Linked DNA regions of Homo sapiens: regions 1, 2, 4, 5 and 6 are each linked to region 3. Evidence: fine-mapped expression QTL. A gene starts in region 3. Each other region holds a variant in brackets. All regions are shown on one strand. Distances are from middle to middle.

Region 1 (5,224 bases), 230 kb after region 3:
GCAACGTGAGGCAAAAGGGTAGTAGTCTGTCCTAAGACTCTCATACCAGCCAGCCTGCCTACCTAGAGCTCAAGCCAAAACCTATGATTACAAGATGGAGCATCAGTAGAGATTCTGTGAAGGTGAAAATTCGCATGGAAAACTAAGCTCATTGCTAGAGTATGACAAGACCTTAAAAAGGTTTGCACAAATTTCTGTGCATATTGGTTTGGAGTACAGAGGTTAGAATTCTGTGACAATGAGAGAAGTTTTCAAATCTGCAGCAAAAATTCCAAAGCATAGACCCCAAAGCATGAACAGCTGAGAAGATAGTCATTCAGTTCTAGGAAGGTGATCATGCAAAGAGTGGGCAGGGGTGAATGGAAGTGGTGAATAATTTTATTAGCTGCAAAATCTTGATTATCATAGAAGAAGAGAAGCTCTATAACTGTCTATGGTTGGTGTCTTTTCTGGTGTCTCAAGAGATGTTATTGTGAGAAGTATTTAAGATTGACAACCTGAAGACACGGTGCCTATTCCCACGAAGAGTTCTAAGTTCCCGGTGGGATAGAGCTGGCATAGTCCTGCCTGCAATGGCTTCTGCAATTACTACCTGCTGTCACATTTAGAAAAGGGGTTCACCAGGCTGGAAGAAGAGCAAGAGCAAGACTGCCATAAAAATGGCACTGAGTCCCAATATATAATCATCTCAGTTTTCAATTGAAAACTTCAGAGAATGTGTAGGGTGACAAGGGCCCTTGGCAAGCGAGCAACCTCATGTGAAGTATCAAAACAGGATAGGTAAGGCATCCATGCAGGACCACCCGGCCCAATTAGGTGAGGGAGAAATCCAAATGAAGGGGTGGCCCAAGCAATACAAGGAGCGTGTCTACCTGTGGGTGAGACCTGGATGGGGCAGGTGAAAAATAAGTCCTGCTGAAGGTGCCTTCTGCTTGTGATGAAAAGGGCACCTACAGCATGGACAGCCAGCACGAGGAGGCAGGTCTCCACAGGGAGAGGGCATCTTCCTTGTGGAGAGGGGAAGTGGGTTACATACACAGACATAGATTATAAGGTAAATAGATTAGGGATAATGAGAGCCACATTTCTTAATGTTGGAGAATGGTATTATGAATATGCAAAGTGAGAAAACTCTGATGAACCCTGTGATGTAATAATGGAATTGGAGGCGTTGGTGTGAATTTGTGGAGAGAGAGCACCCTAATTTCCCAAGTCCCTATTTCCCTAACTCCCTAACTCTCTAACTCCCTAACTGCCTAATTCCTCAGATGAGAGTGCCAGAGAGCAGCAGAAACATCCCAATAGTAATCAACACATCTGGCTTCCAGATCATGGATTCTAAATATTATTCTTCACTAGAAGGAACCAGGACTTCTTGGAGAAATTCCTGATTCCAGGGCTGGGACAGGGAAACATACAAGATGACCTGGAATATCTTGTGTCAAAAAGCAAGGAGTTGCCCAAAGAAGAATAAGAACATATCAATAGAATACAAAAGGCAGCTGTACTGGGCTCTCACTGGCTAATCAGGGAAAAGTTGATCATCAAAATAAATAATGATAAATAATGGATTATAAGTTATTGAAGAAAATAAGATACCACAAGTCCATATATATTTAAATGAATAAATTGAAAGTTTGGCAGATAATGAGCTATTCACAGTTTTAAAGTACTTCCCCAGAAAATATGCTACAGTGAGTAACTTCACTGTGGAGACATCACCTTTATATCATGTGATAAAAATAAACATTATCAGTGATGGGACAAATCAAAATTGTGCCCTACCTGAAAAGATTCCAGGAAAGTGCACATAGCATCATTTCTGTGACAATTCTGCCAAAGATGCACAACTTAAATATAATCAAAAGGCAACATTAAATAAACCCAGATGGAGAGTCATTCTAAAAAGTTAACTGGGCAAAGTTATGTAATCCAGAAAGCTGAATTTAAGACAGGGAGCTGTCTTAAACTGAAGGAGACTAAAAAGACGTGACAACTACAACACGCTGTTGAACCCTTTTGACATAAAGGATGGTACTGGTCAATTGTCAAAACTTGAATGAGGACTGAGAATTAGAGTGGTAATGTATTGATTTTAACATTGTAATTTTGATTATCATGTGGCTATGTAGGATAAAGTCCTTGTTTTTAGGAAATGTTTATTAAAAATCCTAGAGGTTGATGGGGCATCAGGTGGGCAACTTACTCACATATGGTTTCAGAAATTTCTATAGACATTGCCAAATGTTTTAGGGAGTTGGAGAAAAATTGTCTCCAGTTGTTCACTCAGAACAGATATTACCAGGGCTCCACTCAAATATCTTCAGGCCTTTGCTAGAACACAACGCAGGAAATTGCCAACTTTGCAGCATTTCACTACGTCATT[C/A]GATTTTTAAAATTCCTATTTCACCAACTGGGAATGTTAAAATTGGATGGCATACTGAAATACTTACTAATATCCCACTTTCCATACTCCAATTATTACTCATGAGAAATCTAGCATAAACAACACAGTTTTTAAAAGTCGAATATTTCTTCTGAAGAAAAGGCAACAGAAATTACTTTCTTGCTGAAGACAAACATTTATGTATCTAAGGATGAGGCTGTATGGGAGATGCTGATCAGATACAGAGAATCAAAGAGATCTACAGTCCTATATCCTCTAAGTGGTAGGCAGGTTCTTTTAAATCAAAACTCTCTCTTCTAAATCAGAACACCTATCTCTAACAGCCAAGCAGTCTAATGAGAATAATTTTCAGGCCATTTATCTGGCCAGGATGTTTTCTCCTCAATTGAGAGAATACCATGTCAGCCAGGGTTATCTGTTTTCATAGATATCAGGGGTTTCATTCTTCATTTACTCATTTAACAATTATTTACCCAGCAATATACCTTTTTGCCCAACACTCTGCTAGGTGCTATGAAGAAGTCTGAATAGGAGTTTTAACATTTTATTTGGGAAAACAACATAAAGTCATCTGAAAGTTTAAGCAAGATCACAAAACCCCATGCTAACAGAAAATATGTAAAACTGAAGAATTATTAAATTTTTAAAAATCTCGACATTGTTTGGAAAGAGAAACAGATTAAAGAAAGAAAACAATTTTTGGACAAAAACTCAAGTGTCATAAAGACTCTCATTCCACAGTGTCAGAATTCTGTGTATCCCTTGGTTTTGTCACTGTGGCTCTTGAAGCTTTATATATGTCACCTGTATTCTTGTAGAATGAGAAATGCCATATGGCTACCTTTATACTTATAATAACATTATTGGCTTTAAAATCAAGTGACCTTTCTTGGATCACAATGTGGAAAACACATGGTACAAACAGCTTAAAATCCCCTGTTAACAACGCTAATAAAGTTAACATTGGTCTCTTAATTTTGTTTGCTTTTTCATTTTTTCAACATTGAGGAAAAGAAAATTAGATCAAAATTAATGTTTAGGCTCAAGAGACATTCGACTTCATGCCTACTCTCTTTATTACTCCAAATGTAATTAAGTATGTTGACTTCAGTAAATGTACCTTCTGCTATGCATGCATCGATTTCAACAGTAATGAGTTTGCATTCATTATAATTTATTTTAGCCAGATAATTAATACCACCCTTGTTTATTTCTTCAATCATGAAAAAGAATGGGTGTTTGCGTATTTGTTTGCACATGGTGATGATTCAGCGGTCTTTTGTATGCTACTAAATCGCAGTATCTTCCATCGTTGAGCTGTTGCTCAGGCCTAAGAGTACAGAAACCATGGCTTACAAAGGCCCAGGTACATCCATTTTTATTCTAAGCAGTGTAATGGGATTCCTAAAATCCTAAGCCACCCAGGTGGACATCTGAAGAATAATCAGTCATATTTTTAAATACCTAAGCTTCAACCTGAATAATAATCTTCAGTCTCATAATTTTATTTTGCTATTGAGAATCCAGATTTTGTCAAACTTGCCATTTGTTGTCTGATTCTCATATCTTTCTCCCTACATATTTACTCTATCTGGCTGTTTCCAGTGTTTTGTTTTATTTTGTTTTGTTTTGTTTTTGTTTTTTTGCCCCTTTCACCTTTGCTTGCCTCACAGATGAGCACATGTCTCTTTTATTGGATTGTTTTCTGGCTGGAACTTGTTAAGACACAAAAGAAAGAAAATCCAAGGGACTAACTTCGCCTTTCAATTATTTACCAAAAACTTTATTTCCCTTCCTTTCTTGGTGTATTAGGGTTCTCTAGAAAAACAGAACCAATAGAATGTGTGTTTTTGGATACAGATATAGTGGATATAGATGTGTGTGTACACACACGCACACACACACTTATACACACACACACACACACGGGGGGAGGGAGGGAGAGAGAAAGAGGGAGAGAGAGAGAAAGAGGGAGAGAGATAAAAAGGGAGAGAGAGAGAGAGAGAGAGAGATTTATTACAAGGAGTTGGCTTATGTGATTATGGAGGCTAAGAAGTCCCAAGATCTGCAGTCGGCTGGGTGGAGATCCAGGAGAGCCAATGGTGTAAGTTCCAGTCCCAAAGCTAGTAAGTTTTAAAGTCAAGAAGAGTTAATGTTTCAGTCCCGTCTGAAGACCAGAAAAGACCAATGTCCTAACTCAATCAGTCAGGCAGAAGGATTTCCCTCTTACTCAGCCTTTTTCTCCTATTCAGGTCCGCAGTGGATGGGACGAGAGCCTGCCACATTAGGGAGGGCAATCTGCTTTACACAGTCTACTGCTTTACATTTTAATCTCATCTAGAAACCCCTCACAGACACATCCAGGATAATGTCTGGCCAAACATCTAGGTACTCCCTAGCCCAGTCAAGTTGATATATAAAGTTAATCATCACACTGACTTCTTTCTCACAAACATGTGTAACAAAATCATATATGATAGGGTTTTTCTAAACACCTTTAGAAAAGCACACAAATAATGAAAAAAGACATTTTATTATTATCTACATTTCAGTGACTTTTGCCTACAGTGGCTTAATCAGCAACACTTTCCAATAGAAATGTCTGCAATGAGAGAAATGCCCTGTTATCACCCTGTCCCATATGATAGCCACTAGTGAAATATGGCTGTTGAGCCCTTGAAATGTAGCTAGCGCATTTTAAAAAGTAACTTTTTAATTGTATTTAATTGTAATTAATTTAAATTTACATATCCACTTATGACTAGGGTCTGCCATATTGGACATCATAACTAAAATGATACATTATTTTAAAAGGGG
Region 2 (5,224 bases), 310 kb after region 3:
AGCCTGGAATAGAGAAGTGCTAGACAAATGCTAGTTCTTTTTGTCCTTCCAGTGTCAGTCCTACAGCATCAGCACAATTCTGTCACTCATGTCTCAGCCATTCCTTGTAAGATTTTAGACAATGTAAAATACATTAAGTGTATTTTATTTTATAATATATTCACTAAAATATCAATACATTTTGAAATTTCAGGAGGTAAGAGAAAAACAAGCAGGTGTGTAATTACTGCTGATTTTGTAGCTTAATTCAGCAGTGCAAAGATTTTCCTGTCTACTTCCAAGCAGGGACATACCTGTCTTGAGCTTACACATTCACAGTAGTCTCAAAACCTAAACCAGGAGACTCTAGGCTTGCTTTTGGTTGCAGTTTAATAATACTGTGGATTAGTAGCCAAACATTTCTTTGAAACATTCAGTAAGAGCTAGGCAATACAGATCTGGTGTCTGGGTCTTCCAGGAAACTGACAATTTTAGGAAAGCCATGGAGGGGGGGAAAATGAAACAAGGTAAAGAGAAAGCTGTAAAATGAAGTTGATGCAGTACTGGACAAACCCAACACCCAAAATTTTCAGTTTCCATGTTCCTGCATTGTCCCTACCTTCATCCTTAAGAGTTTCAAGAGACCAAATGATCCAAAGAGCTAAGGACCCTGGATCCAAGAATACTGTTTTCCGTCTGGTAAGGACACATTTTTTTTTTTTTAATCTGTGAGCTCAACTTCCAAAGGGCATTTAAATCAATGAGAAAAGAAACAGACTATCCAGGGAAATCAATTCTAATAATCAATCGGGTAACAAAGGTCTAGCCATTTATATTCATAAAAGTAATTAGGAGTCTTGAGCGTTTAAGAACATGAATGTTTTTGTTAAAGGAAATGTACATTAATTTTCATATTAATTCATCTAAAACACAGATCTTGCTTTTGTTGAAATTATTTTCCCTCTTTCACTTTTTACCTCCTTTCTCCATGAGCATTCATTCCTATGGACTTGCTACAGTATACTAGTCACAGAGCCATCGGTCATTAAATAACTATTTACTGATTCTCCTACTTGTACTCACTATTTTACAGGCCAGATAAACATTAAAGAAAACTTTTGTAATGCTTCCTGATGTCTTTTTTATCCCCTTCCGTTAAACAAGAATCTCAGGGTTTTATAAGCTTGCAATATCCTCCAACAACGGTTGCCTAATCATCTGTTGCTAAATCAAAGCTTGATGAGATGAGCAGATAAAAATACAATCAGGGTGTGGTTATATTTCCCTCAGCAGAGGCCTCATATTGCACCACATTTGAAGAAGTAATAGACAGTGATTTTGTAGGCTGTCTCAGGCTCAGCTCATGTTCTGTTTGTGATAATTAGAACTTGTGAACCTCAAGAATGAGCAAGAGTTCTTTTTGCTTACTTCTGCTGTCCACACAACCAAAGGTCTATCTTCTTATATACGAATAGCAAGGAGAGCGGCCTTTGGAGACTGTGTGAAGCCAATCAAATAGGAAAGGCTCATTTATAGCATAGTTTTCAGCATGCTTCTAAACTAGTAGCTGTTCAGAACCTGGAAGAATATGAATCAAATTGCATATTTTGAATTGTACTAGTCTGAATCGACTCATTACTATGAATCTTGCAAATGTTCCCTTAAGCAATGAGGAAGGAGGAAATATAGAAAGTAAATCTACTTAGTAATATAAAAGGCAATACTAGCAAGGCCACACTCTCAAAGAAATTAATCGGTAAGTATTGATTTTTTACACTGTGTGAAGTTCCCATCCATGCAAACGACAACAAGGCCCTGTTGTTTGACAAACCATTTATTCAGGATCATTGGTATCGACTTGTAGTGAGTCAACAAAAGTAGGGAGTTCACATATTTTTTCTTCATTCAATAGAAAATACTGTGTCTCCTTGGCAACTGAGATTGCTTGGTTGACTTTTCCCTTTGCTTTCTACTTACAAGGTACAAACAATGAAGGAGTCCCACCACCTGTGACTTGGGTTCAGAAACAGATTTCTCTGCCTCAAATCACTGAAATAACCCACTTTGTGTGAGGGCGCAATTCTGTGCTTTATTAGATGTATATAGCATCTTTATGGTCAAGTCTCAGACAAATGATAAAAAGTAATTCAAATATAGAAAGTAGTTTTTAATGCCTGAGTTATGATTTCCTCATTCGGAGGCTCCTGAAATGCAAGTGAATAAGAATTATCACTCTTAACTAGCAAACAATACACTTTATTTTCAAACATAATCAACTTATGTAACGAAACAACTGAGTAAAAACATAAACACTTTTTCCCCATTAGGTAGAGTTTTCTCAGAACTCTGGAGTTGTGAAAATGACCCTAAGCTCAAGCAAAGAGGTGTAGAGTTACATCTCTCTTTCTACATTGGCATTGGTGATTAAAAGAAATCAGGATGAGCAGATGGTGCCTAAGGTACAAATCTTGAATATCCACTTTTCTGGAGATAGAATATCAAGTGCTGGTGTCGTCTCCCACCTCACCATTGCTGCTTTTCTCCCACTTCATTGATCTATCTCCTCCATGTCAGGCCCATGTGAGAGCTGAGGGCTTGGTTTCCTCTGATAGAAAGAAGACAAATACAGTTGACCTGGGGCTGTAGAACCAGAGGATTTGCAAAGGCATTATTGCAATCAATATCCAATCACATCAGTTTCCTTGTATATGTGCTACAGAGCAGTTCCCACTCTGTAGGTCTTTTGCTGGGTCACAATTTGATGTTTCATCTTTATACTCTAGGAAACAAGTGGACTCATGAATTTGAAGGGTTTTGTCTTCCTCTCTTAGAGTGGTCCTCTTACTCCTCTTCTCATTGGCCCCTAATTTT[A/G]TTCCACCTGTGGAGACACTCCAGAATCAAGCCTCGGGTTATACTGGGTAGCTGACTGTGCAGATAGGACAAATCATGATTTGTAATCTTCCTTCACTGGTACCCTGCTCAAATACCAACACTCGTGTGCTTCCTATTGTTGAAGGTTTCACTCTGTAATACTAAGGGCAGTATTTGCTCCTGTACTAGGTTCAACAGTGTCCTTCAAAAATTCATGTGCACCCTAAACCTCAGAATGGGATCTTATTTGGAAATAAGAGTCTTTGTGTATGCAGTTAGTTAAATATAAGTTTACTCTGGATTAGAGTCAACCTATTAAGGACCTTATAAGAGGAGAGGACACACAGAGACATAGAAAAGAAAACAGTGTGACAACTGAGACAGAGACTGGAGTGACGCTGCCGCAACCACTTTCTTGCTAGGAAGAGGAAAGAAAGGATTCTTCCCTAGCGTCTTTAGAGGGGAGACAGCTCTGCCAACACCTTAATTTTGAACTTCTCATTTCCAGAATAGTGAAAAAATTAATTTATGTTGTTTAAGCCATTCAATTTTTTGTTTGTTTTACTTTCATTTACTTAATCTATTTATTCATACTACATAGATAATTATTTACTTTTTCTTTTTATTAGTGATGTCCTCTCACAAGAACTTAAGCTTCAGGAAAGCAAGGATATTTGTGTGTGTGTATGTGAGTGTGTGTTTGTATGTGTGTGTATGTGTGTGTGTGGTTTATTTCTATACTCTCAGTGCCTAGAATAGTGCCTGTCATGTTAGATGCTTAATTAACGTTTTGAAATGAATGGAAGGACAGGTAGATTACCTATATCAAAGCTCTTCATAGAACATTCAATTCCAGAAGATAATGGATAAATAAGGGGAAATATGGGACCCAATAATTTTATCCTCAGCCCATTCATGTATAAAAGCAATAGGAAAAGATTGTTAGATGTGAATGATCTCAGAAAATATAACATGCATGACCATGTTTTGAAAACCTTCCTGATAACAAAATTTACCCAACTAAGATGTGGTTCACAGTACAGAGCTTAAGAATGTGGAAGCTGCTTTCTGAAAAAACTAATAAAGTAAACATTAATTCCCTTCTAATTATGGCTAAGGCAAAAAAAAGAACTATTAATATGGCTTTAAATTTATCAAAAAGAATGCAAATGTTATAAATTATTAAGAAAAGCTGTACAATAGAAAAAGCAATAAGTATTATAAATTTGGTCAGTAGTTTTAGAACATAATAGTAAAAATCAGAAGGAACAAGATTGTCCTGTGTTCGTAATTTTTCACTCTGGGAGACTAAATTTTGTTGCCAAAAATCCTCTCATACAACATTGGTAGTAGTGAAAATTTGTTAAATCCTGTGAGAGGACAATTTGGCAATATCCATAAACTGTTAAAATATATACGAAAATTGATTGCAAAAATTATTCTAGTTTTTCACACTGACGCTAAATGCCCTACCACACATACCTTGGATTCAAGTTTGCTGGGGCCAATGGAATAGTAGCAAAAGACACAAGAGACTTGAAGAAACATTTACATGTTCCACCTCCTTTCCGTGGCCCTCAGTCTCACCATGAAAACATGCCCAGGATGGGCTTCTAGGAGAAATCCTGAGGCTTTCTAGGCCAGCCAACAGTTAGTCAACCCCCAAATGTATGGGAGAACCCAGCTAAGATCAGCAGCAACACCTAGCCAACCCACAGCTTACTTACAGCAGACATGTGAATCAATCTAGCCAAGACTAAAAGAATCACTAAACCAATATGTCATCCTATGAATAATAGTAAACGTTTGTCTTAAACTATCATATTATAGGAAAAAAACCTGATATATGAAATTACCCTGTGAGTTTATATTAAAGATACACTTACCTTCTCCAACAAGAGTTGTAACAATTTTTTTCTTATTGCAAACAATGCTATGGGGATACTTATAGTAGCATTTCTGCTCAACGTAATATTTTATTGTAGCACTGTTTGCAATAAGAAAATAATTGGAAACTGCAGAAACGATCACTAATGAGGTATGGGTTAAAAATCTTTTAAGTTGAAAGCAACAAATGTGACAATTAAAAGGCATAAATTAGACATATATTTTACATTATCACAACTTGTATTACTAAATGATAAAAATGAGTTGCAAAATAATATATAGAACTTTATATTTTATAAATATGCACATGAAAAAATGTTTGTAAGTATGCACAAACTGTTAACAGTTATTACTTCAGAGGAGTGAAAAATAGGTTGAAAATGAGAATGACTTTCATTTTTAGTATACTTAAGTACATTTTCAATTTTCAATTATATGCAGTGATTTTGTCCTTTAAAAAATAGGATGGACTTTTTTAAATATAAGG
Region 3 (5,224 bases):
TTTTAAAAAATACATCCTTAGAACAATGTCTGATACATAATAAGAACTCAACAATGTTAGTTATTATTCATACTGTTTCTCATAACTTAAGTTATAGGTCTGAAGACAGAACTCTGTATTATGATCAGCTAACCTTCAGAAAAATAGTTAACACAATGAGCAGAACTCAACATTAAACTCCAGGAGAGATGAGGGGAAAAGGACAGTAGTCTATATTTTCAAAAGATTTAAAACTCTTTTGGGTCAGAGACCCATTTAAAAAGCTGATCAAAGTTACGGATATTTTCCTGAGAAAAATCCACATGTACCCAGCATTTCAGGGCTGCTCTTCTAGCTGTCCTGAAATTCATCAGAGGCAGCAAATCTGAGATGGAGTATCCCGTAGGCTTTAAAACCTTCCACTTCCAAAATCTATTTCGATAAACCTTAAACCACTGTTTTCTCCATCCCCCAAGGAAATTTATAAACATTGTGCCTTGCAATATAGCTGTTGACATTGGCTACATTAATTTCATGGATTAAAACAAAAGAGCATCATTTTAATCACCAGTAGTCTGCAGGAAAATTCCAACCAGAACTATAGCTTCCAATCAGGTTCTGGAGTTGCCACTCCAAATCAGCAAGGAACAGTGAAACCAAAAGTATGGGAACACCCTGCCTATCAGAAGTTCCAGACCAATGGTCAACTGACCCTTCTCTGTCACTGTTGCAAAGCAGATGATACTGCAGGAGAGACTTTTCTGATTGACTAAAATTCTGTGAGAATTTTACACGAATAAGGACCCGAAACTAAGACAATCATAACAAACCTTAAGATCTCTATGATACTTGTTAACTTTAAGCAAAACTAGCTTTTTCTTCACTTTTTAAATCTAAATGGCTTTTGCTGTATTTTCAGTTCTTCTCTTTATATGTCTTTATGTTCCTTCCCATGTATTTCCTTGCTCTGTTGGCCACATTACTTCACACGAAAACAACAGGAGTTTAAAAATTTAACCTGTATTATATCTTTTTTATTCATTTATTTATTTTTTGACAGGCTGGAGTGCAGTGGCAGATCATATAGCTCACTATAAACTGGAACTCCTGGTCTCAAGCTATCCTCTCGCCTCGGCCTTCCAAAAGTGTATTGTATCTTGATGCTTTCAGTAGAATGGTTCACCTTATAACCTCTACATGGCAGGATGCATAATCACCAGTTTATTCTGTAATACCTGAGCAAAAATTCAGCCTAGCTAATATGGCCTCTTTCACCACACTGACAAGATAAGGATGACGTCCACTTAGTTGGCCACCACCAGTATCATAATATTAGATAGTAGTTTAAAAATATATAATGGAAACTAGCTGGTGACCACCACTTTACTTCCAGTTTTGAAATTGCTGACTCATCCTATTTAAGAATCTGTTGTAAGCATCATTTAAGAATTAGTTTGGTTTAGACATACTTTGAAGTCAACATAGTTTTTAATGCATGGAATTACATAAAGTCAAATGAACTATATACCCTTGCTACATGCGGTCTTAATAACACTTGAAAAAATTGGCTGGATTTTCATTTAAAAGCCACCTTGAATAATGATTTTATTTCAGTGAAATTCGCTCGTATTTTTTCCAAGTTCCTTCGACATTCTAGATACACTATCGCTTCTCTAAGAGATAACTGGCTGGCGCAGAGTTGGAACCAATACAGACCCAGGCCTGACTGCCAAGCACTGACCATTCCTGCAAATTTCTCTCCCAGAAGACGTGTGCAAGCAAAGAAGAGGGCGATAATTTGATTTTGCAAAGGTAGGGATAGACGCGCACGCACAGACATCTGCACCGGCCCACAATGAGTTTGGGACGGGAGCAGTTAGGAAGTGGGGAGCTGCGGTACCTTTTCTTGGCCTTCCTGAGCTTGACTGGGTGCAGAACTCAGCCCTCAGGGCTGCGGGACAGCGTCTTCTCAGAAACCCGCAGCTTGGCTGGGGCCGCCAGACGCGCGTCCCTCACCCTCCCAGCGGAGCGCGGGGTGCCCGGCCCGCCTTGCGCTAGCCAGCAGCCTGGAACGCCGTAAGAGCGCAGCGCAGTAGGGAGTCGCACGCCAGGGGCAAAGGGACCTGCGATCTGCGCTCCTCCGGAAGCGGGAGGATGGCTAGGAGAGCCTCAGAAGTGTCATTAAAGGAAAAACCAAAAATTGAAGTTGCGGCTAAGTTTTCCCCATGAGAAGGCGGGGCAGCTCGGCCAGTAGGATAGACCGGAGGGTAACGCTGGAGCTGGGAGGGGCCCTGGGCGTAGGCTTTCGGGGAAAATTCCATCGCCCTTTCAACCACCACCACTCCCCTCCCAAGGCAAAGAAGCCGAGCTCTGTACCTCCATCGAGTCCTGGCTGCAGGGTGGGGGGCGACAGCCACCGCAGCCGGGAGGGTGCGGCCACCCAGTTCCCTCCCGGGGGGCGCCGGACTTCGAAGGCAGTGAGCGAGTCAGCTGGGATTCCCCCGGGCGCCTGCCACCCGGAGTCCCAACCCCTGGCGAAAAGAAAAGTGAAAGAGAAAGAGCCGGGAGCATAGGCGAAGACAAACACCTCCCGCGGAGACTGGGGGTGGGGCGGGTGGCGGCGGCTCCTGGATGACTGACTGCCCCAGGTGTCACTGCTTCCCGGCCTGTTTCCGTCCCTGCCGGGGCCTGGGGCGCAGAACTTGCAGGGCAAGCGCAAGGACATCGAGGAGCCCCAGCCCCGCCCTGCAGGAACACCAGCCACCGGTCTCCTCCTCTACCTGCCGGGACACCTGCAGAGAAGGCACAAGGATAGCCGCATCCCAAGCGACGGGCACCATGTGGGAAGCTTCCGCAGCTGAACCTGGAGACCCGGGCTGGGCTGGCGCGCATCCAAGTCTTCCTGAGGAAAGGGAAAAGGATGTCGGATCTGGATGCTGGGCGGCTACTCTAGACCGGCCTCTTGGTCCCCGCACAGGCTGCAAGAAGGAAACTTTGAAGTCCAACTAGGGGAAATGTTGGAAGAAGACACCCGGGTGGCAGCTTTGTGCAAGACAGTTGGTACAGGGAGTGAACTTAGAGCAATGAGCCTCTCTGCGGATCACTTTTCCAGCCTATTGTGTAGTCCAGTGTAAAATATCACACATGGTCCCATTTGATGGAAGCGTGAGATGTTGTTCTTGTAGTATTTTTACATTGGAGGAAGGAACTGAGTTGAGGCTGAGTGATTTGCATGCCATAAAGGCAGTAGCAAAGATCTCACGCTTAGTTTTGAAAGTACTTTGCAGAATCTTGCACTCTTGTGAATCACTGAAAATCCCTCTTGTACGGTGCTTTCCAAATTTTCAGAGTCATGGTTCAGAGAAAATGATGTCTTCCTGGAGCGCAGTTTAATTTAGTTTAAAATTTAATTATGTTTTTAATTACATAAATATGATAAATATCAAATAGAAAAATAATAGAAATTATTCACTTTCCATGTACATAAAGTTCCGTATAATATAATTTCATATTTTTATGAAAAATTTGAGTTTATTTTCATTAACTCAATTTTTTGATATCAGTTTTATATTTGAAATAATTACTGATGGACTTTTTGATGAGAATTACATCAAACTCTAGATAGTCTCCATTAACAAAATAAGTGAGGTATAAAAATGCAAAAACAGTTTTTACAACCATTCAAAATTTCACCATAGTTGGAAATTATATTTAAGAATATGAAGCCATCATCCATTTCTGTTCATGACGATGTCATGTTGAATTTTCTTGTGATGGTGTCAATGGATTTCAAGACCAGTCAGAATTTTTCATAGCAATACATTGAAGCTCTGATTTGCAGAATGAGCATGCACTGGGAGAGCAAGACTGCAGCTGGTTTGGATCTCACCACAAGAATATAGCAGCCACGGAAGGACTGATATGCATATGTGTGAAGATAGAGAATAGGGATGAACAAGTGTATCATGTGTCCCAACCTCATTTTGGACTGTTGCAGAGCTTCCTGGACTCCTGCCATGTAAACTCCTCTAGCACCTCTTTCAGCTCCTTTAATGGATACTGTGTTCTCTGCAGCCGGTGAAGGAAGCAGGTGTCCACGCTCAGCACCACCTAGCAGAGCTCAATATCAGATATTGCTGCTGCCAGAGGACATATCATCACATCTCAGATCCTGTCTCTCTTGGACTGCCCACAAACTCTATAGAAAGTGCTCTCAGCTGGTGCTCACTAGCCTGTGGGCTTCAGCTTTGTTAGCTGTCTGCAGGACTCAGGGCCATCAGTATCTGACTGCATACTTTTAATATATTGAGACCACCAAGAACGTTCTGAGCTACTAGAGAGTTTTCACAACACTATGAAATTGACGGAAAGTTTACTTGTAGGGTGAACTTAAGGCATAATCTGAGTATATAACAGTAAGAAAATTGGTCTACAACTGTTTATTGGGTTTCAACTATAGTAGGTTCTAGAACAAGATGGACTAAATGATATATAAAGCATTTTGTCAGAGTAGGGAGATAAAAAACATAAATAACAGTAAAGTACAACTAAAAATTATTATAGTCATAAGATATGCTTTGCTCTACTATTTGCCTCCCAAATATGTTGGTCAAATTTGTTTTCATAAATACAGATGTTTTAAAAGTATTTTTAATTAGTTATGAGTGCCTGCAGTTCAATGAAGTTGGGTTTGCAACATAATTTGTTTTTGTTGCATTGCACTCAAAAAGAAAAGTCTAATGTATGCAACTTGTGTTTTCAGTTGCCACAGGCTGTTTGGCAAAATATTGAAAATTACTCATACCAATGAACAAGTAAATTCTGCTGCATAAATTAAAAGCAAAGATGAAGATTGATGAAATAATTTGAAACTGTCTTAAGATAACTAATAAAATTACAGGGTAGAAAGAAGTGGAGATTAACTAAATCTCATAGAAGTGACCATAATAATCTTCCTGAATTCAAATAATTAACAATAAAATTATAGTTTAATAAATTTTTAATATCTTTTTTCAAAAACAATGTCAATTGGGCAATCATCTTTAAAATAAATTACTAATAATTTATTTTCTAGCTTTTGTGATTACATGGAAGAAGTTACAAGTTATTTCATCTGATTTAGTGTTCAAAGTCCATGACTGTGGCCTTATTTATGGTTTTACTAAGATTTAAACCTCCCATCAAGAACAAGTTGATCCCCTGCTCTTTGGAAAACATGGCCTGCCTGGGTTCTCTACATTTCCAT
Region 4 (5,224 bases), 270 kb after region 3:
TGGTTTTTTGGAAGGATCAACAAAATTTATAGACCACTAGCAAGACTAATAAAGAAGAAAAGAGAGAAGAATCAAATAGATGCAATAAAAAATGATAAAGGGGATATCACCACTGATCCCACAGAAATGCAAACTACCACTAGAGAATACTATAAACACCTCTATGCAAATAATCTAGAAAATCTAGAAGAAATGGATAAATTCCTGGACACATACACCCTCCATGACTAACCCAGGAAGAAGTTGAATCCCTGAATAGACCAATAACAGGCTCTGAAATTGAGGCAATAATTAATAGCCTACCAACCAAAAAAAGTCCAGGACCAGATAGATTCACAGCCGAATTCTATCAGAGGTACAAGGAGGAGCTGGTACCATTCCTTCTGAAACTATTCCAATCAACAGAAAAAGAGAGAATCCTCACTAACTCATTTGATGAGGCCAGCGTCATCCTGATACCGAAGCCTGGCAGAGACACAACAAAAATGAGAATTTTAGACCAATATCCCTGATGTATACCGATGCAAAAATCCTCAATAAAATACTGGCAAACTGAATCCAGCAGCACAACAAAAAGCTAATCCACCATGATCAAGTGGGCTTCATCCCTGGGATGCAAGGCTGGCTCAACATACACAAATCAATAAACGTAATCCAGCATATAAACAAAACCAAAGAAAAAAACCACACGATTATCTCAATAGATGCAGAAAAGGCCTTTGACAAAATTAGACAGCCCTTCATGCTAAAAACTCTCAATAAATTAGGTATTGATGGGACATATCTCAAAATAATAAGAGCTATTTATAACAAACCCACAGCCAACATAATACTGAATGGGCAAAAACTGGAAGCATTCCCTTTGAAAACTGGCACAAGACAGGGATACCCTCTCTCACCACTCCTATTCAAAATAGTGTTGGAAGTTCTGGCCAGGGCAATCAGGCAGGAGAAAGGGTATTCAATTAGGAAAAGAGGAAGTCAAATTGTCCCTGTTTGCAGATGACATAATTGTATATTTAGAAAACCCCATTGTCTCAACCCAAAATCTCCTTAAGCTGATAAGCAACTTCAGCAAAGTCTCAGGATACAAAATCAATGTGCAAAAATCACAAGCATTCTTATACACCAATAACAGACAAGCAGAGAGCCAAATCATGAGTGAATTCCCATTCACAATTGCTTCAAAGAGAATAAAATACCTAGGAATCCAACTTACAAGGGATGTGAAGGACCTCTTCAAGGAGAACTACAAACTACTGCTCAACGAAATAAAAGAGGACACAAACAAATGGAAGAACATTCCATGCTCATGGATAGGAAGAATCAATATCATGAAAATGGCCATACTGTCCAAGGTAATTTATAGATTCAATGCCATCCCCATCAAGCTACCAATGACTTTCTGCACAGAACTGGAAAAAACTCCTTTAAAGTTCATATGGAACCAAAAAGAGCCCTCACTGTCAAGTGAATCCTAAGCCAAAAGAACAAAGCTGGAGGCATCACACTACCTGACTTCAAACTATACTACAAGGCTACAGTAAAGAAAACAGCATGGTACTGGTACCAAAACAGAGATATAGACCAATAGAACAGAACAACAGAGCTCTCAGAAGTAATACCACACATCTACAACCAACTAATCTGTGACAAACCTGACAAAAACAAGAAATGGGGAAAGGATTCCCTGTTTAATACATGATGCTGGGAAAACTGGCTAGCCATATGTAGAAAGCTGAAACTGGTTCCCTTCCTTACACCTTATACAAAAATTAATTCAAGATGGATTAAGGACTTAAATTTAGACCCAAAACCACAAAAACCCTAGAAGAAAACCTAGGCAATACCATTCAGGACATAGGCATGGGCAAGGACTTCATGTCTAAAACACCAAAAGCAATGGCAACAAAAGCCAAAATTGACAAATGGGATCTAATTAAACTAAAGAGCTTCTGCACTGCAAAAGAAACTACCATCAGAGTGAACAGGCAACCTACAGAATGGGAGAAAATTTTCGCAATCTACTCATCTGACAAATGGCTAATATCCAGAATCTACAATGAACTCAAACAAATTTACAAGAAAAAAACAAACAACCACATCAAAAAGTGGGCGAAGGATATGAACAGGCACTTCTCAAAAGGAGACATTTATGCAGCCAACAGACACATGAAAAAATGCTCATCATCACAGGCCATCAGAAAAATGCAAATCAAAACCACAATGAGATACCATCTCACACCAGTTAGAATGGTGATCATTAAAAAGTCAGGAAACTACAGGTGCTGGAGAGGATGTGGAGAAATAGGAACACTTTTACACTGTTGGTGGGACTGTAACCTAGTTCAACCATTGCGGAAGACAGTGTGACGATTCCTCAAGGATCTAGAATTAGAAATACCATTTGACCCAGCCATCCCATTACTGGGTATATACCCAAAGGATTATAAATCATGCTGCTATAAAGACATATGCACACGTATGTTGATTG[C/A]GGCACTATTCACAATAGCAAAGACTTGGAACCAACCAAAATGTCCATCAATGATAGACTGGATTAAGAAAATGTGGCACATATACACCATGGAATACCATGCAGCCATAAAAAGAATGATTTCATGTCCTTTGTAAGGATATAGATGAAGCTGGAAACCATCATTCTGAGCAAACTATCGCAAGGACAGAAAACTAAACACTGCATGTTCTCACTCATCAGTGGGAATTGAATAATGAGAACACATGGACACAGGAAGGGGAACATCACACATCGGGGCCTGTCGTGGGGTGGCGGGAGGTGGGAGGGATAGCATTAGGAGATATACCTAATGTAAATGACGAGTTAATGGGTGCAGCACACCAACATGGCACATGTATACATATGTAACAAACCTGCACGTTGTGCACATGTACCCTAGAACTTAAAGTATAATTTTAAAAAAGCAGACAATAAATACTGTAGGCTTTGCAGTGCACATGGTCACTATTGCAACTATACAATTTTGTTGTTGGAGCAAAGCAGCCATACACAATACATATATGAGCATAGTTGTTTTGCGATAGAACTTTATTTACAAAACAGGATTTGGATTTGCTTTAGTTTGCCAATTCCTGGATTAGGCAATGAAGATAAATGGCTACTAACATCATAGAATGATAGCCAACCAGGCAATAGTTGCCTCTTTTTTTCTTTATTTCTTCTAAAAGAAAAAAATATCGGATACATGTGCAGAACGTGCAGGTTTGTTACATAGGTATACGTGTGCCATGGTGTTTTGCTGCACTTATTGACCTCTCCACTAAGTTCCCTCCCCTCAACCCCCACCCCTGAATAGGCCCTGGTGTGTGTTGTTCCCCTCTCTGTGTGTATAGGTTCTCAATGTTCAACTCCCACTTATGAGTGAGAATACGTGGTGTTTGGTTTTCTGTTCCTGTGTTAGTTTGCTGAGGATGATGGTTTCCAGCTTCATCCATGTCCCTGCAAAGGACATGAACCCACTCCTTTTTATGGCTGCATAGTATTTCATGGTGTATATGTACCACATTTTCTTTATCCACTCTATCATTGATGGGCATTTGGGTTGGTTCCATGTCTTTGCTATTGTAAATAGTGCTGCAATAAACATAGGTGTGCATGTGTCTTTATAGTAGAATGATTTGTGTTCCTTTGGGTATATACCCAGTAATGGGATTGCTGCACCAAATGGTATTTCTGGTTCTAGATCCTTGAAGAATCATCATACTGTCTTCCACAATGGTTGAACTCATTTACATTCCCACCAACAGTGTAAAAGCATTCCTATTTCTCCACAGCCCCGCCATCATCTATTGTTTCCTGGCTTTTATTAATCACCATTCTGACTGACGTGAGATGCTCTCATTGTGGTTTTGATTTACAGTTCTCTGATCATCAGTGATGTTGAGCTGCTTTTTTCATGTTTGTTGCCCATGTAAATGTCTTCTTTTGAGAAGTGTCTCTTCATATCCTTTGCCCACTTTTTGATGGGGTTGTTTGATTTTTTTCTTGTAAATTTGTTTAAGTTCCTTGTACAGTCTGGATATTAGACCTTTGTCAGATGAGTAGATTGGAAAATTTTTCCCTCATTCTGTAGGTTGCCTGTTCACTCTGAGGATAGTTTCCTTTGCTGTGCAGAAGGTCTTTAGTTTAATTAGATCACATTTGTCAATTTTGGCTTTTGTTGCGATTGCTTTTGGCATTTTAGTCATGAAGTCTTTCTCATGCCTATGTCCTAAATGGTATTGCCTAGGTTTTCTTCTAGGGTTTTTATGGTTTGGGATTTTACATTTAAGTCTTTAATCCATCTTGAGTTAACTTTTGTATAAGGTGTAAGAAAGGGGTCCAGTTTCAGTTTTCTGCATATGGCTAGCCAGTTTTCCCAGTATCATTTGCTGAATAGGAGATCCTTTCCCCATTGCTTGTTTCTGTCAGGTTTGTTAAAGATCAGATGGTTGTAGATGTGTGGTGTTATTTCTCAGGTCTCTGTTCTGCTCCATTGGTCTATATGTCTGTTTTGGTACCAGTACCATGCTGTTTTGGTTACTGTAGCCTTGTAGTATAGTTTGAAGTCAGGTAGTGTGATGTCTCCAGCTTTGTTCTTTTTGCTTAGGAGTGTCTTTGCTATATGAGGTCTTCTTTGATTCCATATGAAATTTAAAATGCCTACATCAGAAAGCTAGAGAGATCCCAAATCAACACCCTAACATCACAATTAAAAGAGCTAGAGAGACAAGAGCAAACTAATCCAAAAGCTAGCAGAAGATAAGAAATAACTAAGATCAGAGAAGAATTGAAGGAGATGGAGACACAAAAACCCTCCAAAAAAATCATTGAATTCAGGAGGTGGTTTTTTGAAAAGATTAACAAAATAGATAGACCACTACCAAGACTAATAAAGAAGACAGACAAGAATAACATAGACACAATAAAAAATGATATAGGGGATATCACCACTGACCCCACAAAAATACAAACTACATCAGAGAATACTATAAATGCCTCTATGTAAATAAACTAGAAAATCTAGAAGAAATGGACAAATTCCTGGACGCATACACCCTACCAAGACTAAACCAGGAAGAAGTCAAATCCCTGAATAAACCAATAACAAGCTCTGAAATTGAGGCAGTTTAATTAATAGCCTACCAACCAAAAAGAAAAAAAAAGGCCCAGGATCAGACGGGATTCACAGCTGAATTCTACCAGAAA
Region 5 (4,527 bases), 330 kb after region 3:
TCCTCAGGCTTCACTGCCAGAAAGGCTGGCACCAGAGTTCTGGGATTGGACTAGGGAATCAGTATTTTTAACAGGTCCCCAAAGTGATTCTGATGCAGTCAGACCACAAATATTTGGCTTTTGGAAATTAATAAGTACCATTAGAGAGAAAGTTTGTATGAAAAAAAAAAATACATCACAAGTGCGGTTCTTGCTACTTCTGCCAAACTGCCATTTTCTCCAAGGTACTTCTTTCTGGTAATGGAGGAAGAGAGCTAAATCCAATTAAAACTCTCTGTGATGCTACTGAAGCTCAGTGTGATGGTTAATTTATGTATCAACTTGCCTGGGCTGAGGGATGTCCAGGTGGCTGGTAAGATATTATTTCCAGGTTTGTCCGTGAGAATGTTTCTAGAAGAGATTAGCATGTGAATCAGTAGACTGCATAGATTCCCTCACCAATGCAGGTGAGCATCATTCAATCTCTTGGGGGTCTGAATAAAAATGTGCTCTCTCTCTTTGAGCTGGGACATTCAGCTTCTTCTGCCCTCAGACATTGGCACTTCTGGCTCTCAGGCCTTTAGTCTCAGACTGAATTATACCACCAGCTTTCCTAGTTCTCTGGCTTACAGACAACAGATTGTGAACTTCTTGGCCCCTGTAATATCATAAGCAATTTATATAATAAATATCTATGTCAATACAGATATAGATAATTAGTTTTATTTCTCTAGAGAACCTTAACTAATACATCCATTGATATTAAAATCATTATCAACCTGATATATATTGGTAAATTAGAGTATGTCTCATCATATTATAGCATAATGATAAAGTCTTAATGCATATTCTACTTTTGCAATTTGGGGTCTAGCTAGCCTTCTCACAACTCGATGTAGGACATAGTTTAGATTCTTGTGTGTAGATAAGCCCTTGTCACCTTTTCAAAAAGTATTCTTTATAGCATTAAGTAACAGATGACCTAAATATTTTTAAAGTTTATAATTTACCTTTAAATCTGTAATTTGTACATTAAAAAGTTCAGGAATTATAAAGGCCCTGGAATTAATATAAAAACAAATATATTTTTAGTATAGGGAACAATCTCTTAGTTATGATTAAAGGCAACCTTATTTTTATCTCTCACCATTTGATTGCACCTTGAATTTATGTGGGCTCTTTAAAGATGTTAATGCCTAGACCCTACCCTCAATGGTTGTGATTTATTTGGACTGTAGCATAGCCCAGGCATTGGGATTTTTGAAAGTTTCCCAGGTGACATTAATACACAGCCAAGATTGAGAAGTGTGCTTCGCACACGATGGAGTGGGAGTACTCTGCAACTGAACCAAGGCTTGGGCAAGTCCCTAACTTCCCAGCAACTCTCAGAGGATGCAACCTTCTGCTCACCTGTGTAAAGCACAGTCTCAATGAGGAAGTTTGACAGTCCAGTCTCTTGGAGAAACCCAGCCTCTAGATTTCTCTATTTATTTTTGCTTTTAATGTCCTCTCCAGCTCACATGGCTCGGGTGGTGGAGGGGTGGCCAGTGAGCCCAGTCCTCCTGCTGTCTGCTCTCTCTGCTCATCTGCTCCCACAATACAGAATCAGTATTCTGCTTTGTGAAGGCTGGGCTGGGAGATAAAGAGGTGTGCATAAAGAGAAAGAGTTAGCAAAGTTACTTGGCTGGGAAGTTTCTTTGGGCTTTGGGGGCCTACCAGATGGTTAAAGCTGAAGTCGTGGCTGAGTAGACAGATGTTAAGCTATCCCTTTCCTACATGAGGCTCTTTCAAGGTCTCTTCAGAGATTTCCTTGTTGGGACTTCCTTCACCTGCAGTTTCCTTGGTTGCAACTCCTTTCCTGGCTACTTTGCATGTCCATACTAGCAGTCCCTACTGGCCTCTTTTTTCTGTGGCCTATTTTCCTCCCTGTTGGTCCCCAGGTAAAATCTCTTCCCCCGGCACACATCTGGTCCAGGGAAACACTGGCGCAGCCCTTAGACCATGCTCTCAGGGCTCTACCTCAGGAACACTTAGCCCTTTCATTGTTCTTCCCAGTTCCTGGCCCCAATCAGATTCAGTGCATTCTGTTAGATTTATCAGGCTTCCCAAAGTAGAGGGCACATTTCAGAGCCCTCCGGGACATCTACTTGAAGTCCCTTCACTTTCTCAGTTGGTGTGTTTAGAGCCAAAATGAAGCCAGTGGGCTGAGAGGTGAGGGTTGGGGCAGGAAGAACAAGGCAGCCTAGTTGGATATGATGTCTCAGGGGAAGAGGTCAGAGTGTAAAGGGGCCTAATAAGCCAAGGTACCTGCAGGGGTGCCCACTAGAAGGCTTTCTGCAGAATGCGATGTGATCTAATTATGATTCGAAGAATAGTGTGGACAGTAGGCAGACAAGAGCAGAATCAGATATGAGGCATCACAGATAAGACCTGCTCTCATGGCCCCTGCTGATGTGTAAGGCATTTCCCCCGAACCTCTTCTGCAGGTCAAGAAGACACTTTGCTCCTTCCTTTATCCTAACCCTCTGCCCAAACCTGAGAAAAATATGACAGAGGCCCATTGCAGTTTAGAAGGTCTTTATACTAACCCCAAGATTCTCATTTAGGAAAGAGTCCATAATGGTTTCACTGGAGTGAAGCAAAGGCAACTGTACAAATATAATCAGCCCACTGAAGGTTCTGGCCTACAACATAAGAGTTTCTTCTGTTTAGCACCATCAAACACTCTCGTGACTGCACATATCAATAACTTTAAGAAGTTACCTTCTCCCCACTTGGACACAGGGTGGGGAACATCACACACCAGGGCCTGTCGTG[G/A]GGTTGGGGGAGGGGGCAGGGATAGCATTAGGAGATATACCTAATGTAAATGACGAGTTAATGGGTGCAGCACACCAACATGGCGCATGTATACATATGTAACAAACCTGCACGTTGGCACATGTACTCTAGAACTTAAAGTATAGTAAAAATAAATAAATAGAAGTTACCTTCTCCCTTTTTGGAGGGCAATTTGACCACATCTATTAAAACTTTAAGTGCTCATAAAATTTGACCTTGCAATTTTACATCTGGCATCCATCCTACAGAAACACTGAAGTCTGTGCACAGAGTTACAAACACAAGAACATTCACTTTGCATTATTTGTAATAGTGAAAATTGAAAACCTTAATGTTTCATCAGTATAATGGTTAATTAATTCATGATAATCCATATTACAGATAGTTATGCAAAAGAAGACCAATTTGAACTCATGGAAACAGTGACACGATTTATGGTTAAGTGGGGGAAAAAACTAGTTTCAGGATAATATGTATGGCAAGATCCCACTCTTGGAGAGAAAAAAAGATATATGTGTACAGTGTATGCACCTGTGTCTGTAAAGGCCCACAACAAAGTCATCAAACTATTAACAGCAGTGGCCTTTGAGAAAGGGAGTGTGAGTGGAATGAAGAGGCCAAAGAGAGAATACAGATTGCTCAGCACTTCATAGTGTGATTTAATCTTTTGTAATAATAATGCATTTGTACATTTCCTATGTGACTTTTTTTAACTAGAAAAAATAAACAACAACAAAAAAAACAAGAAATACAGAAATGTGGTTGGCCTAAAAATCTTGGGTATTACTTCTTAATTTTAACAAAAATGTTCTTACAATCCTAGTCTGGTTGCTATTCCAGCCTTTCTAAATTCCTGACCTTCACTGCTCATCAAATTCTAATTAACCTTGTGGTTCCCCAGAGTCTTGCAGGTGTCCGGACCGGCTGGTGTCTCCTGGAGCAAACCAGCCCTCCTTCTTGTGGTAGGCAACTGCCTGGGTGCTAACTCCTCGGTGACAGCAGTGTAAATGATTCCATTGGTCTTCTAGGAGGCAGGAACTTCACAGACCTCAGTGCATAATAACAAATTCAATGCTTAACAGGACTTGTCATGCATGGAAGGAGCTGCGGTCGCCACCACAGTGGTCACAGGACCACAAGTGTGAAGTGAAGAGCTGGCTCTGACAGTGATTGCTCTCTCTAAACAGGTCAGGGTTTGTTCTGCCTCAGTACAAACAAACAGTGCCCTCTTCTGCCCAGCAGCAGAACTTCTCTTCAAAACCATCACCTTGTCAGAGTATCTGGAACTTTCACCCTGTTAGGTTGTTCACTGCAAAATGAGCCAAAGAAACTGGAAAATAACACTGATGAGGGAGAGGTCATCTGTCGGAAAGCTGTCACTCTGATTCTGCCCTAAATTCATGTCCCAATTTTACAAGCATTCTATTTTAACCGCAGAGAAGATGAAAAGATTTAAATAATAGAGTAAGTTACATCTATCAAACTGGCCAAAAAAAAAAAAAATTTAAGTGCTTAAACTTTGTATTGCTATGATAAAATATTATCCATGGTATGGAATATCAGTTCAAGCTTTCTGAGAAACAGTCTGGCAGCTGGTTACCATTTTAAAAATATCCTTTATTACATTTTAGTTCAATAATTATTTATTTGGGAATATTTCATGAAAAAAATAGACACAAAGACAATGAAGTAATTTACATAAAGATGCTT
Region 6 (5,224 bases), 69 kb before region 3:
AGCAACTGACTGTCTCCATCCCTGAGGCCCTGCTCTCATTCCACTATGTTCACATGAATGCTTGCACCACCACAAACTCAGCTACCTAGAGCATAGGCATGTCATAATGACCAAGACCCCAGTGTCCAAACTCACATGGCACACCACTATCTCAGGGAACAGGCAGATATGCACAGCAGGGAAGCTTCCAAACAGCCACTAGCCATGTTACCAACACATACCTGTGCTTCACAGCCAGCAAGCACTCTGAGCATGTATGTGCCTGCACCCAGCCTGGCAAGTGGTCATGTGGCAACCTACTCCCATGAAAGGCCACTGCAGAGCTGCATGGCCTTGCTGCACCCACAAACATTCACATGCAGCCCGACATCCAGTCCTGCAGCAGCTCTGCCTCTCCAACAGACTGCCACAGGGATGCTTGGCATTGCTGTGCTCATCTAGTTTGGTGGCTGCCCTGCCTCACTGAAAAGAAAGCCACACAGCCACCTTGCTGGCAGCATCTCTGTAAGCTCAAGCCTGGCCCAACAGCCAGCACAGCAGTAGCCACTGACTCTCTGGAGAGGTAGCCAGACAGCTTGTCAGCTCTCTGTGCCCCCACATGCCCAACCTGAAAACCAACCCAGTGCTCCCACCCCAAGAAAACTATGCCACTACCTCAAAAGCTCTCACAGCGTAGACCACTGAGTCAATCACAGACACCACTGATGAGTATTACAGCCAAAGAAACTGCACAGATACCGTGCTACTGAGTCCACCCAGAATCAAAGCCATTCACCATGCTGAACTTATACCCTAGGATTTATCTACAGGAAATGTCTCTCCCTGAAAAAGCTACTCCATAAAATTGGAAACAAAAACTATTCTACTATATGAACAAGTATCAATGCAGAGACAAAGGAAATATAATAAAAGCAAGAAAACATGATACCCCCAAAGGAACACAATAAATCCTAGTAGAAGACCCCAAGTAAAATGATACTTATGAAATGCCTAAAAAATAATTAAAAATTATGATCTTTAAAAAGCTCAGTGAGATACAATAGAACACAGACAAACAATCAATAATTGGAATGAGAAATGCATAATATATAAATATAATTTTAAAAGAACCAAACAGAAATCTGGGAGCTGAAAAATTTGATAAATGAAAATTTAAAAAATACAAGTGAAATTTTTAACAATAGACTAGATCTTTCATGAAGGAATTTCTGAACTAGAAAACAGGCGTTTGAAATAACCCAGTCAGAGGAAAAACACAGAAATAAGAACAAAAGAGAATGAAGAAAGCCTACAGAATACATGGGATACAATTAGGCAAACAAATATTCACATTATAGGAATGCCAGAGGAAGAAGAAATTTTTTTAAAGGCATAGGAAATGTATTTAAGAAATAATAGCTTTAGGCTTCCCAAGTATTCAGAGATACAAACATCTAGATTCAGGAAGCTGAAAAGTCCCTAATTAAATTGAACCCCAAAAGATCCTTTCTGAGGCACATGATTATCAAACTGTCAGCAGTCAAAGACAAAGAATTCTAAAAGCTGCAAGACAAATGTATTAACTCACATACAAAAGGATCTCTATTAGACTATCAGATTTTTCAGCAGACTAGGAGAGAATGGCATGACATATTCAAAGTGCTGAAAATTAAAAAAAAAAAAATCAGCCAAGAACACTATATTCAGCAAAGCTATCCTTCAAAAATGAAGGAGAAATGAAGACATTCCCAGACAAACAAACACTGACGGGATTCATCACCACTTAACTGATCTTACAAGAAATGCTTAAAGGAGTGGTACAATTGGAAATGAAAGGCTCATTATTACTATAATAAAAACGTGTGAAAATATAAAGCTCACCAGTATAGGTAAATTCATAAATCAAACTCAGAATATCCTAGCGCTGTAATGTTATGCAAATCTTTTAATCCTCTAGTATGAAGGTTTAAATCAAAACGGTCAAAAATTACAACAGCTACATAATGGGTAAAGAAGTAAATTAAGGAAACAAATATATAAATAGTAAAGAAAAGAGAAAACATCTGGAGTATTTTTATGTGAACAAAATTAAGTTGCTATCAGATTTAAATAAACCATCAGTACCCTTTATCCTTATAATAACCACAAAGAAAGATATAACACATATACAAACAAGAAGGAGAAAAGAAACCAAGCTTAGTAACACATAAAACCACCAAACCACAGAGATAAACAATAAAAGAGGAAGAAAGGAACAAAACATTTA[C/T]GAAATAACCATAACCAGAAAGTAATTTTTTTAATGTTAGGAGTAAGTTATTATCTATCAATAATAACCTTGAATATAAGTGGACTAAATTCTCCAGTTAAAAGATAGAGAGTGGCTGAATGAATTTTTAAAAGGAACCAACTATATGCTGCCAACAAGCATAACACAGACTGAAAGTGGAGGGATAGAAGAAGATATTCCATGCAAACAGAAACAAAAAGCAAGCAGAAATAGCCATACTTATATCAGATAAAATAGGCATCAAGTCAAAAACTGTAAAAAGAGGTAAAGAAGGTCATTATATAAAAATAAAGAAATCAATTCAATAAGAGGATGTAACAATTATAAATATTTATGCACCCAACACCAGAGCACCCAGATATCTAAAGCAAATATTATTAGACCTAACAGGAGAAACAGAGGGCAATACAATAATAGTAGAGGGCTTCAATATACCACTTTCAACAATGAACAGATCATCTAGACAAAAAATCAACAAAGAAACATTGGACTTAAATTATACCATAGACCAAATGGCCCTAACAGACATTTATAGAACACTGCATCCGACAGAGTACACATTCTTCTCACCTGCATATGGAACATTTTTTAGGATAGATCACATGTTAGGCCACAAAACAAGTCTTAAAATTTTTAAGAAGATAGAGATCATATCAAGTATCTTTCCTAACCATAATGCAATAAAACTAGAAATCAATACTAAAATAAAAACTTCAGAAAATTTAAAAATACATAGAAATTAAACAACTTTTTCTTAAATAACCAATGGGTCAATGAGGGAAGTAAAAGTGAAAAAAAATTTCCCTCAGACAAACAAGAATGGAAACACATCATATCAAAACCTATGCGACATAGTGAAAGAAACTCTGAGAGGGAAGTTTAAAATAGTAAATGCCTACACCAAAAAAGAAGAAAGATTTCTAGTAGACAATCCAATGATTCACCTCAAGGAACTAAAAATAATAAGAACAAACTAAACCCAAAATTGGTAGAAGGAAGGACAGAAATAATACAATTCAAAACATAAACAAATAAAATACAGACAAAAAAATGAATTCATATAAAAACCAAAACAAAGATTTGGCTTTTTAAAAAGATAAAAATCAACAAACCTTTACCTATGGTAAAAAACAAGTGAGAGATTCAAATAAATAAAATAAGAGATGAAAAATGAGACATAACAACTGATACTACAAAAATACAAAGGATCATGAGAGACTATTATGAATAAGTATACACCAAAATAATTGATGACATGGAAGAAATGAATAAATTTCTGGACACATATGACCTATCAAAATTAAAATAGAAAATCCACCAAGAAATAGAAAATCTGAACAGACTGATAATGAGTAAAGAAATTAATAACAATTAATATAAATTATTATTTATTATTATCACTAATAAGTCTTCCATCATCAAAGAAAAGACCAGGACCTGAAAGCTTCACTGCTGAATTCCACCAAATATATAAAGTACTAACACCAATTCTCCTCAAACTACTGAAGAAAATTGAAGATGGGAGAATACTTTTAAACTTATTTTATAATGCCTGCATTAATCCGATTCCAAAACCAGACAAGGATACAACAAAAACATAAAACTATAGGTCAATATTGATGAGGAATATAGACACAAGATTCTTAACAAGACAGTAGCAAACTGAATCCAACAGCATATTAAAAAAATCATTTAGTATGATTAAGTGGGATTCATCCCAGAGATGCAAGCATGGTAAGCATGGTATAACAAGCTAATCAATAAATATGGTACAACACATTAACAGGAAGAAAAACAAAATCCAGATGATAATATGCAGAAAAGCATTTGAAAAACTTCAACATTCCTTCATGTGAAGAACTCTCAAAAAATTAGACATAGAAGGAATGTATCTCAGTAGGTCATATATGACAAAACAACAGCTAACATCATACTGAAGGGGGAATTGCTGAAAGCTTTTCTTCTAAGATTAAAGACAAGACAAGGATGCCTATCCATGACTTCTATTCAACATAGTACTGGAAATCTTACCCAGGACAATTAGGCCAGATAAATAAAAGGCATCCAAATTGGAAAGGAGGAAGTCAAATTGTCCCAGTTTGCAGATGATAAAACTTTATATATTAAAAACCCTAAAGAATTCATCAAAAAACTTTTAAAATTAACAAATTCAGTAAAGTTGCAGGACAGAAAAACAACATTTAAAAATCACCAGCATTTCTATACACCAATAATGAATTAGCTAAAATGGAAATCAAAAAGGGATCCTATTTACAATGGCTACAAAAAATTAAAAAAATCGAATACCTAGAAATAAACTTAACCAAGGAAGTGAATGATCTATACACCTTTTTTTTTTTTTTTTTTCAAGATAGCAGATAGGAGGCAGTGTTAGCATGCCTCTCCCACTGGGAAAACTGGAAAAATCCACAGACCTTTTGAAAGAAGTGATAGGCTGCAGCCTACTCCATGAGATAGGAAAAAAAATAAAAGTTCCCAGAGTATGAGACGGGGAGATTCTACCTTTGAGCACATATCCCCACTAAGGAATCTGAAAATCCAGGCCACAGGAGAAGGCCTTAATGCTACCAAGAGCTGGAACAAATTTAGGGAGCCTCGTGAAAATAAAAGTAGAAGCAGTCGCAGGAAGTGCCTTGCAGGTATTCTGAGTCTCTAGTATGAACCAAGGAAAGCCATTCCTGACTATATCTCACAGGAGCCCTCAAGAAAGTTAGCCAATGAGCTCAGGGAGGGGTCACAGGGTAAAAGAAGCTCCCAGCTGAATTTGTGATATAATTTTGAGTAGGGATGTACACCCATCAACAGAACTTGGTGGCGAGTGGGAAGAGCACTGCTGACCAGCCTTGAGGGCAGACGAGAGGAGGAGGGATGTGACCCAAAAGTCATGCTTGCTATTTCTGCAGGGAAGCTTATGGCCTCAGGCAGGTCTGAGTTCTG

Direction of the effects. Positions count from the first base shown, and alleles are read on the strand shown. Sizes are in standard deviations (SD) of each study's normalised expression. Not every link is listed here.
With allele C in place of A in region 1, the expression in fibroblasts of the gene that starts at base 2,521 in region 3 is lower (moderate effect, 0.54 SD a copy in GTEx).

What was found.
Region 1: its variant is fine-mapped to the expression of IL15 in fibroblasts (GTEx, PIP 0.91).
Region 2: its variant is fine-mapped to the expression of IL15 in whole blood (TOPMed, PIP 0.99).
Region 4: its variant is fine-mapped to the expression of IL15 in whole blood (TOPMed, PIP 0.93).
Region 5: its variant is fine-mapped to the expression of IL15 in blood mononuclear cells (TOPMed, PIP 0.97).
Region 6: its variant is fine-mapped to the expression of IL15 in whole blood (TOPMed, PIP 0.95).

The regions. Positions count from the first base shown.
Region 1 is chr4:141,408,218-141,413,441 of GRCh38, reverse strand. No RefSeq gene overlaps it. Among named protein-coding and RNA genes, the nearest start is that of LINC02432, 78 kb to the right of the region's middle. The variant C/A (reference allele first, on the strand shown) is at 2,387.
Region 2 is chr4:141,325,321-141,330,544 of GRCh38, reverse strand. The region is part of intron 1 of LINC02432 (long intergenic non-protein coding RNA 2432); the gene reads left to right. Among named protein-coding and RNA genes, the nearest start is that of LINC02432, 4.7 kb to the left of the region's middle. The variant A/G (reference allele first, on the strand shown) is at 2,851.
Region 3 is chr4:141,633,880-141,639,103 of GRCh38, reverse strand. It overlaps IL15 (interleukin 15), which reads right to left and starts at 2,521. Exons shown (of 8, transcript NM_000585.5): 1 at 2,356-2,521. RefSeq lists an enhancer at 2,519-2,608.
Region 4 is chr4:141,360,127-141,365,350 of GRCh38, reverse strand. No RefSeq gene overlaps it. Among named protein-coding and RNA genes, the nearest start is that of LINC02432, 30 kb to the right of the region's middle. The variant C/A (reference allele first, on the strand shown) is at 2,495.
Region 5 is chr4:141,306,862-141,311,388 of GRCh38, reverse strand. No RefSeq gene overlaps it. Among named protein-coding and RNA genes, the nearest start is that of LINC02432, 23 kb to the left of the region's middle. The variant G/A (reference allele first, on the strand shown) is at 2,797.
Region 6 is chr4:141,703,146-141,708,369 of GRCh38, reverse strand. The region is part of intron 2 of IL15 (interleukin 15); the gene reads right to left. Among named protein-coding and RNA genes, the nearest start is that of IL15, 69 kb to the right of the region's middle. RefSeq lists an enhancer at 327-827. The variant C/T (reference allele first, on the strand shown) is at 2,246.